2 linked regions of the Homo sapiens genome follow. The protein of the gene in region 1 purifies or fractionates together with the protein of each later gene. This does not show direct contact. Each region holds a gene or a part of one and is shown on either strand. Other genes may lie near its edges.

Evidence for each region. Proteins that work in one complex are often made in the same cells at the same time.
Region 2: the proteins of GALNT12 (region 1) and TANGO6 purify together in Homo sapiens (affinity purification with mass spectrometry; one large-scale study listed by BioGRID and IntAct). This does not show direct contact.

Annotation. Positions count from the first base shown.
Region 1 is NC_000009.12:98,834,579-98,839,272, reverse strand, and holds part of GALNT12 (polypeptide N-acetylgalactosaminyltransferase 12), read right to left. Parts: intron 4,025-4,694; coding exon 3,907-4,024; intron 2,302-3,906; coding exon 2,125-2,301; intron 1-2,124. UniProt on the Homo sapiens protein: Catalyzes the initial reaction in O-linked oligosaccharide biosynthesis, the transfer of an N-acetyl-D-galactosamine residue to a serine or threonine residue on the protein receptor.
Region 2 is NC_000016.10:68,841,680-68,847,009, reverse strand, and holds the start of TANGO6 (transport and Golgi organization protein 6 homolog), read right to left. Parts: upstream 3,480-5,330; 5' UTR 3,393-3,479; coding exon 3,299-3,392; intron 1-3,298.

The DNA.
Region 1 (4,694 bases):
TTCAGATTTCTGCTATTTCCCAGAGTTCTTTCACTGGTGAAAGTCACTGCGCCCCCAGCTTCAGCCAAGTATCCATTTAGCACTTGGCCTTGGACATGAAGCCTAAGGGTGCATTCAGTGCCCCCCTAAAATATTCTCTGGGAACCCTCAGGAAAAGGGAACTATGGGTTCCAGACTGTGCATGAGGAAAGAGTGGGTGTTTCTACTCTATGGTGCTGGGCAAGACGGAGGAGGCAGAAGCAAATGACCATGGAGCCCAGAGCCAGAGAGGGGCTGAGTGGGAGTCCAGCTGAGAACCCATGGGCTCTGCAGAGCAGAGCAAGAGGTGCGCTGCAGAGTACAGGCCCCAAGCCCAGTTCTACCTCCTATCAGCCACAGGGCCTGGACAAGTTCCTTCCAACAGCGTCTCTCTGAGCTTCAGTTTTCTCATCTATAAAATGAGAATTTTATTGCTACCCTGCAGGGTTGCTGGAAGGACTCAGAAGAGACTTCCATGAAGTGGCCTGATGAGAAGCCTTAGAGCAAGACCTTCTTGTATTGCCAAGCAGCCCTACTAGTTATGCAAATGCAGGGCAAGCAGGCACCCTGCCATGGAGCATGCAGAGCTGGCTGGGGCAGAGGCAGTGGACTGTGTTTCATCTGAAGCCCAAGACCTGGGAAAGAAGAGGCAGATCCCTCATCCACAATGGTCCCGGAGGTAGAGGCAGAGCAAGGATCCGGACCAGAAAACAAGTCCCTGAGATAAATCGCTATGAGGAAGGACACAGTCTGGGCTGAACCTCAGCCTCCGACAGACTCAGTGCAGTGGGTGGATGGGCCAGTGTCCCTGTAGTGTGTGGCTGAGACCCAGGGGAGCAAGCCAACTGAGCTGAGACTTCAGTGACTGCAGGCACACCTTCACCATTGGTCAGAGAGATGGGCCCAGCAAGGCCTCTGAGTGGGGAGGAAGATAGACATCTGTTAGGCTGGCGGTGGGGGGGTTTCCATGACCATGACATATGGTGAGAAAGAGTAGCAGCGGGGGCCTGGGCCACTCTCCAGTAGTCCTTCCATCTGGAAATGGAAGCAGAACAGACTCCCTGTTTTAGAAAAGGAAGCTTCCAGGGTGCTAACAAGAAGGCTCTAGAGGGAGGTAACAGACCCCTAACTAATAAGGCGGATGTGTCCCTGAGCAATAGCTTTAAGGTAAAGAACTGTGCCTTAACTTGTACCCTGTGTTTGTGGACTCACCCTACTGGCTACAAAGAGGAAAACCAAAACACATGGACAATGCCTGGCCTGTGACACCAGGTATCCCCAACTATCTATGTTGGTACAGTCCATCCTCATTATTTACTGGTTCTGTATCTGAATTTCCCTACATGCTATAATAAAATTGATTTGTAACCTCCAAATCAATACTTGTGGTGTTTTCTAATTTTCACACACATTCATGGACAAAAAATTTGAGTTGCCCAACACTTAACTCCCATTTCCAGGTGATATATAACAAGGGCACACACCGCCTTCTTGTTTCAGCTCTCATCCTGTAAACCAGTGTTCTTTTCACCATCTGTTGGGCACCACATTTTTTCCTGCTTTGTATTGGTGACTGCACCAGCTATTCTAGAATGTCCCCCAGTCGTAGTGCTGAAGTGCTACCTAGTGTTCCTAAATGCAAGAAGGTTGTGATGAAGAGAAAATAACACGTGCTAGGTAAGCTTCATTCTGGCATGAGTTACCGTGCTGTTAGCCATGAGTGCAATGTTAATGATGCAACGATATATGTTAAACAGGTGTCTTTGAACAGAAACACATAGAAAACAAGGTTCTGTATTGATCTGCTGACAAAACTGTGCCCCAAGTCTGGCAGGAACCTAACCCTGTATTTCCCCTAAGAACAATGGCTCTGTTTTCATGAATTCAGCATTTGTGGTGGCTTTATGCACTATAACAGCTGTAAATAAGAAGATTTGACTGCATATAATTATTATAAATGGAGGAATAAATTCTCCCCTTACTCGTATCTGAGCACCCAATTTATTCTCTATTTCTGGAACCAGATCGACTATGTTGGGGAAGCCACGATTAGCTGCTGTTGTTCAGATGAAGCCAGATGGAGTGCAGGTGGGCCGAGGAACTCACCAAGCGGGCACGGGGGTTGCGATGGTAGTAGAGCTCTTTAAATTCATCCATCCATACTTCAGCTGCACGAACACTGTTGGCCAGAGCCTTGTTGCGGGAGTAGGGAGCTTGCTTGGGGAAAACATGGCCAACATGGGAACATGGGTGTGTTTCCAGAACCCCACCACACTGCCAGATCTGCACACAGAGAAAAGGAGAGGCCAGGTGGTGAGCAGGGGATGAGCTGCGGGTCCATAGTATCTGCAGCAAAGAGGCCAGGCACACGCAAGGCATGATGGACACTGCCAAGATGCTCAGCCTCCATCGGGCAGGAGGCCACCTACCCGGCACACTCATGACACAGAATGTGGGTAAAGAGCAAGAAAGCAGCCCCCAAAACATATAAGCTGTGGGAACCAAGACCCCAAAGTCCATGCACTAAAGCTCATGCACTTGACTCACAGGAGCATCCACAGAGACCTCGCTGGCAACCCACTTACTCATTACAGAAAACACAGGCTTGATTACCTGATCTCCTAGCCACAGAAGATAGGAAAGCAGCAAGGAAGAAAAGAGGTTTGGAAGGGGGAAAGGAAGAGCGTCTAGAAACAGGTAGAGCAGCCTGACACCTAAGGAAGAGGCAGAGAGACCATTAAAAGCACACCCAAAGACTCAACAGGCGAAGGCATCTGAGCCCATCTCACACTGGGACTGACAGCCTTGAATATCTCATTTTCCCAAAGATGGGACAACCAAGCACAGCATCTGGTACTTATTACAGAGGGCGTGAGTCCTCGGTAGAAGGCCAAATTCTTGTTTATTCAGTTTTTATGAGGGCAGAACACCATATAAAATATTATTAAAAATCTTAATTTTCCACTGAAAAGCACCAACATTTACACAAAGTTTTGATGCTTAAAATGTAAGACTTCATTAACTGGAAAATCTACTGAAATGCTAGGAGTTTTCCAATACGGTTTTCACGGGCCATGTAGAGTAGCATCAGTAGGAAGGCTTGTTACAAAAAGCAGAATCTTGGTCCCACCCTAAAGCTATCAAATCTAGCTAGAATTCTAGATTGTGCTTGTGAATCTGTCTTTCTAACAAGTTTACCCAGCAATTCTTACATGTGTTGGCTGGGTGCAGTGGCTCACACCTATAATCCCAGCACTTTGGGAGGCCAAGGCGGGTGGATCACCTGAGGTCAGGAGTTTGAGATCAGCCTGGATGACATGGTGAAACCTCGTCTATACTAAAAATACAAAAATTAGCCGGGCATGATGGCACATGCCCATAATCCCAGCTACTCGGGAGGCTGAGGCAGAAGAATCACTTCAACACAGGAGGCGGAGGTTGCAGTGAGCTGAGATCGTGCCACTGCGCTCCAGCCTGGGCGACAGAGCGAGACTCCGTCTCAAAAAAAAAAAAAAGAAATTCTTACATCTGTCAAAGTTTGAAAGGCACTGTGCTAAATAAAGAGGCCACTTCATAAGGAATTAATCAAGTAAAGGCTCCAGAAGACAGGATCAGGAGGAACCTAACCCTGAGCAAGTCACCTCTCTCCTGGTTTCATTTCCTCCTCTCCATAGAGTGAGAGAGAACTATGTGACTCGCAAGGCCCTTGCTGGCCCCAAATCTAGAAAAAGTACACTTTTTAAAAAGCTAAAACAAGAAAGCAAGCATGTTTATAGGATATGCGTGTCATCATCTTTCAGGGTCCACCAGGCTCTTACAGCAAATCCCATCGTTCCCAAAGAGAGAATCAGTTAAGAACATGTCCAAAGAGAAGACTGAAATACTTACCCTAAAGGAAAATTCGAGGTTTTCTCCTCCCCAAACTTCCATTCCTGTATCATAAGACCCCAGATATTCAAAATATTTCTTACTCACAGCAAACAGCCCACCAGCCATTGTTGGAGACCTAAAAAAGTATGATATCCTTATTTCACTGTAGACAGCAGAAAACCATCACAGTTATCCAACTACCTTCCCACCACGAGCCCTTTCATCTGTTCATCTGTCATCTCTAAGCATATCCCGCCTTCACCTCTGTGCCCCACACTAGGCTGGGCCTGGAGGCATAGATGTACCCTACGGTCCCTGCCTTGAGGTGGCTCCCAGGCTTCTCAGCAGGTAAGTACTATGTGTGTGCTAAATATGTTAACTAAGGTCAGCCAGGGCCCTGGGAGAACACTGAGGAGGGCAGGGGCAAAAGGGCAGGACTAGGTTCCCTGGAGGAAGCAAGGTCTGCAGGACAAAGGACAGTTAGCCAAGAAGAAGAAGGGAAATGGAATGGTTCTCCAGCATGAGCAAAGGCTTAAGGGTGGGAGAAATCCAGGGACATTTAGAAGCATAGAGAGCAAGGAGAAGAGAGAAGCAAGAGACCACGTTCCGAGAAGAAGGCAGGCTCCAGGCCATGGTCATCTGAGGAGGTGTGATCTCACAAGGCAGGCACTCACAGATGCCACTCAGAGGCCAGTATGCAGAAGGCCCTAAAGGCAACTCTGGCATCTGAAAGTGCCCCGAGGGCCAGGTCCTCTTGAGTGGTTTCCTCCACTAGGACCCAGCTAGCCAGCCTCAGGCTGCTTTTT
Region 2 (5,330 bases), on another chromosome or scaffold:
CTGAGGCAGGAGAATCGCTTGAATCCGGGAGGCGGAGGTGGCAATGAGCCGAGATCACGCCACTGCATTCCATCCTGGGCAACAAGAGCGAAACTCCGCCACAAAAAAAAAAAAAAGGTATTACCTCTTGTTGAGTTTCTCGATACTTTTTTCCCCACACAATACATGCAGAGATTATCTTGTTGAGCTTTAGAATTGTATAAAAGACCGGACGTGGTGGCTCACATCTGTAATCCCAGCACTTCGGGAGGCCGAGGCGGGAGGATTACGAAGTCATGAGTTCCAGACCAGCCTGGCCAATATGGTGAAAACCTGTCTCTACTAAAAAAAAAAAAAAAAAAAGAAAATTAGCCAGGCACAGTGGCATGTGCCTGTTGTCCCAATTACTCGGGAGGCTGGGGCAGGAGAATTGCTTGAACCTGGGAGGCGGAGGTTGCAGTGAGCCGAGATCGCACCACTGCACTCCAGCTTGGGCGACAGAGCAAGACTCCGTCTAAAAAAAAAAAAGAAAGAATCGTATAAAAGAATGTACATAATTATTTGAAAAGGTGATTGAACTCTCCTCCCTTTTCCAGTTACATATCTATGTGAGTCTAGGTTTTCTTCATGTACTTCAGTCAAAACAACCTATCATGACAGACTGGAGAAGCAGATATGAAAATCCAGCTGACTTCTTGAGGTTGGGCATGGTGGCTCGCGCCTGTAATCCTAATCCTAGTACTCTGGGAGGTCAAGGCAGGCAGATCACCTGAGGTCAGGAGTTCGAGACTCGCCTGGCCAACATGGTGAAACGCCGTCTCTATTAAAAGTACAAAAAATTAGCCGGGCATGTGGCGCATGCCTGTAATCCCAGCTACTCGGGAGGCTGAGGTAGAAGAATCACTTGAACCTGGGAGGTGGAGGTTGCAGTGAGCTGAGATTGCGCCACTGCACTCCAGCCTGGGCAACAAGAGCGAAATTCCATCTCAAAAAATAATAAAAGTACAAAAATTAGCCAGGCATGGTGGTGGGTGCCTATAGTCCCAGCTACAAGGGAGGCTGAGGCATGAGAATTGCTCGAACCCGGGAGGTGGGGGTTCCGGTGTGTCAAGATCATGCCACTGCACTCCAGCCTGGGTGATGGAGTGAAACTCTGTCTCAAAAAAAAAACAAAAAACAAAAAACAAAATAGGGTCTTACTCTGTCACCCAAGGCCGGAGCACACTAGTGTAATCATGGTTCACCACAGCCTAGACTTGGACCTCTCAGGCTCAAGCAATCCTCCCATCTCAGCCTCCCCAGTAGCTGGGACCACAGGTGTGTAGTACCATGCCTGGCCAATTTTTTAGTTTTTTGTAGACACAGAGTATCACTATGTTGCCCAGTCTGGTCTCAAACTCCTGGGATCCTGCCTCAGCCTCCCAAAGTGCTGGGATTACAGGTATGGCCCACCTCGCCCAGCCACTACAGATATTTTTAAATTCCCTAAGCAGCTAATATGATAAAATAGTAGACAGATTCATATAATATATAAGACTACATGTACAAAATAATATAATTTCACGAACTAATTCCTCTTCAAATAGGAATGCTTGAATTTCTGTAAATTAAATGAGTACATATATGTGTACTCCACCACATACTCATAGAGATTAGAGAGTCTTCTATAAATGAAGCATAATATACATGTTTCATAACAGATGATTACTTTCAGGATTTTTGCTTATTTAAACGTGTTCTCAGTCATACAATAGAGAGTTGCAGGCCAGGTGTAGTGGCTCAGGCCTGTAATCCCAGCACTTTGGGAGGCCAAGGCAGGCAGATCACTTGAGGTCAGGAGTTCGAGACCAGCCTGGCCAACATGGCAAAACTCCGTCTCTACTAAAAAGACAAAAATTAGCTGGGCATGGTGGTGTGCACCTGTAATCCCAGCTACTCGGGAGGCTGAAGCAGGAGAATCGCTTGAACCTGGGAGGCAGAGGTTGCAGTGAGCCGAGATTGTGCCACTGCACTCCAGCCTGGGCAACAGAGTGAGACCTCATCTCAAAAAAAAAAAAAAAAAAGAGTTGCCGTTAGAAGACAAGTGACCTCTCGATTAGCAACTTAAAATTCTATTTTGCAGTCTGACTCTTAATTGAGACAATGTAGCATATTTACCATACTTTTAGTGGAAATAACCTAAATTCAAATTCTGCCACTTACTAGTCTGACATTGGGCAATTTCCAATGTACCTGAACCTTGGTCCTTCATCCGTAAAAATTGAATACAAGTAGTACCGATCCCAGGGGATCGTAATGAGGATTAAATGATGTGTATGTCAACAGCCTACTATGGGGACTGATACTTAGTAGGCACTCATTTACTAATATTAGTAACTTGTGTTCACTTCCCGCTGGTGTGGTGTAATGTTTGCAGAAGTTTTTGCAGTTTTAAGTATAAAATCTGAGACTGGGAGGTGATCCCCTTTGGCCTTTCATGTGCCCTTGCTAATTCTACAGATCCCTTCCCATCCCTTCCCCCAAATATACACCCCAGTGATAAGCAGAGCTCTATCTTCCACGTCCTTTCCAAAAGCTCCAGATAACATCAGAGCCCCTATACTGAACAATTTGTCTGATTCTGAGAAGGGGGTTCAGTAGATCTCGGGCCTAGGTCCGTGTTCTGCCCCTAATTTGACCACGTGATCTTGGACAGGTTACTTAATTTCTTCAGTGAGCCTTGGGTGTCCTCAGTCGCAAAAGGAGTAGCAGCTTCAACCACTCCCAATATCCCTTCAGATTTTAGACTGGGAAGAAACTGTCCACGCACCACAAAGATTAAAAGCGCCTGGTAACCCCTAAATACTCTCCCCAAACCCATTTCAAACGTCACTGCTTCCGATGTCTGGACTTCTTGGCATTTCGTACAAATCTCAAGGGTCCATGCTGGCCCCTGCGCCCTCACGCGGCTAGGACCTCACATTTCTACGTCGCGGGCGCCCTACCCTCTCTGGAGCTGGGTCCATATCCCCCTCCCAAGAGCGCTGCAGTAAGCACTGAATGAAATAACGGCCCCGCCTGACAGAGCCCAGCACAAGGCAAATGCTCAAGAGATGTTGGCTAATATCAGCAGTCAACGGATCCCGCGCCCTCCTTGAGCCTCAGTTTCCTCAAGAACGTAATGAGGACGGGCATAGACAATGCTCAAAGCCCCCAGCAGCGGGCGGAGGGTCCCGAGGCGGGCCTAAGGGGCGCACGCTGCGGAAGGCAGGGCAGCCCCGGAAGCCGGGCGGCCCTGAGAGTCCCGGGTCCAGCCCGGCGCGGAGATGCGTCCTCTCACCTCCCGGGCTCAGCAGCAGCTTCAATGCCTCCAAAATCCGATCCAGACCGCATGTCTCCTGAGCCCCGCTGCCCACGGCCTGTCGGGCCGCCATGACTGGAGTGTAACACCACGCTCGCGACCCGCTCAGGCGCCTCGGCAGGGCGCCGCCGCCGCCATGTTAAGTGTGGCAGAAGGCTCTGGGCACACTATGGGGCGGGGCCAAATCGATCGGGAACGCCCCCTTCACATTTTTTTTCCGTCCCGGCTTAGTCCGGGGGGTAAGAGGGAACCCAAAAATGGCTAATCTGCCCACGCGCACAATTTCAGAAGCTCAATATGATTAACCGCTATGTAAAGAAGGAAGAGAGAAGTAATGTATCATTAAAGCTATATTTCAATATGAAAATACTCAGGTACTCAACACTGGCAGACATAATGAAGCAGACAGATGCTTCCATCTGCTTACAGTGAAGTATGGATAAGAAAAACAATATTCAGGCTGGGCGCGGTGGCTCACACCTGTAATCGCAGCACTCTGGGAGGCCGAGGCGGGCAGATCACAAGGTCAGGAGTTTGAGACCAACCTGTCCGATATGGTGAAACCCCGTCTCTACTAAACATACAAAAATTAGCCAGGCGTGGTGGCGGGCGCCTGTAGTCCCAGCTACCCGGGAGGCTGAGGCAGGAGAATCGCTCGAAGCTGGGAGGTCGAGGTTGCAGTGAGCCGAGATCACACCACTGCACTCCAGCCTGGGCGACAGAGCGAGACTCCATCTCAAAACAAACAAACAAACAAAACCTAAGTACAGACGTACACACGCATATATATCCATCGTGAATGTAAAGCTACAAATGTTGTTATGGGTAATATGATTTTTTTTTTCAGTGAACTTAGTAAAGTTCCCAGTAAAAGTTCGATCTGTGTTCTGTTTTCATGGTTGATGCATTCCTCGAAAATTCAGGGTCTATCAAAACCATGCCCTCCGCCAAACTGTTTTTATATGTAAAACAGAATGGATTTGAGATTCAGATTATCGGAAACAGGTTTTCACCTACATAAATCCTGGTGGGACGTTGAAAAACCATGTTGTCTGAAAGTCATGCCGCAGACACAGGACAATGTTTTTGAGGGCAGGACCTTTATTTTTATTTTATTTTTTGAGATGGGGTCTCGCTCTGTCGCCTAGGCTGGAGTTCAGTGGCGTGATCTCGGCTCACTGCAACCTCTGCCTCCCAGGCTGAAACAATTATCTGGCCTCAGCCCCCCGAGTAGCTGGGATTACTGGAGTGCCCCAGCATGCCCGGCTAATTTTTGTATTTTTTGTGGAGACAAGGTTTCGCCCTCTTGGCTAGGCTGGTCTTGAGCTCCTCACCTCAAGTGACCTGCCCACCTGGGCCTCCCAAAGTGCTGGGATTACAGGCGTGAGCCACTGCGCCCGGCCCAAAGGACAAACTTCTTAATGGTCCGGTCCTTGGGCGAGAATAAGCTGCGCATAGCTATTACCCTTTTTGGCATGACTCTTGTTTCTTCTTTTCTTTGTCATTTTGGAATGCAGGGCCTGAGAGGGAAAAACGCTAAAAATTTTTTTTTAGAGATGGAGTCTCTATGTTGCCCAGACTTGTCTCAAACTCCTGGCCTCAAGTGATCCTCCTGCCTCAGCCTTCCGAATAAAATCTTGTGTGTGTGTGTGAGACAGAATCTCACTGTCACCCGGGCTGAAGTGCAGTGGTGTGATCTTGGCTCACTCCAACTTCTGCCTCCCCTGCTCAAGTGATCCTCCCGCCTCAGCCTCCCAAGTAGCTGGGACTACAGATGCATGCCACCACACCCGGCTAATTTTTGTAGAGATGGCGTTTCACCATGTCACCCAGGCTGGTCTCAAACTCCTGGGCTCAAGCAATTTGCCCATTTCGACCTTCCAAAATACTGAAATTGCAGGCGTGAGCCACCGGTTCTGGCCTTAAAAATATTTTTGAATGGGAAATAAATCACCTACAAAATTGCCACTGTGCTCTTTTTATTTTGTGTATTCCTTTCCAGGTTTTGTCA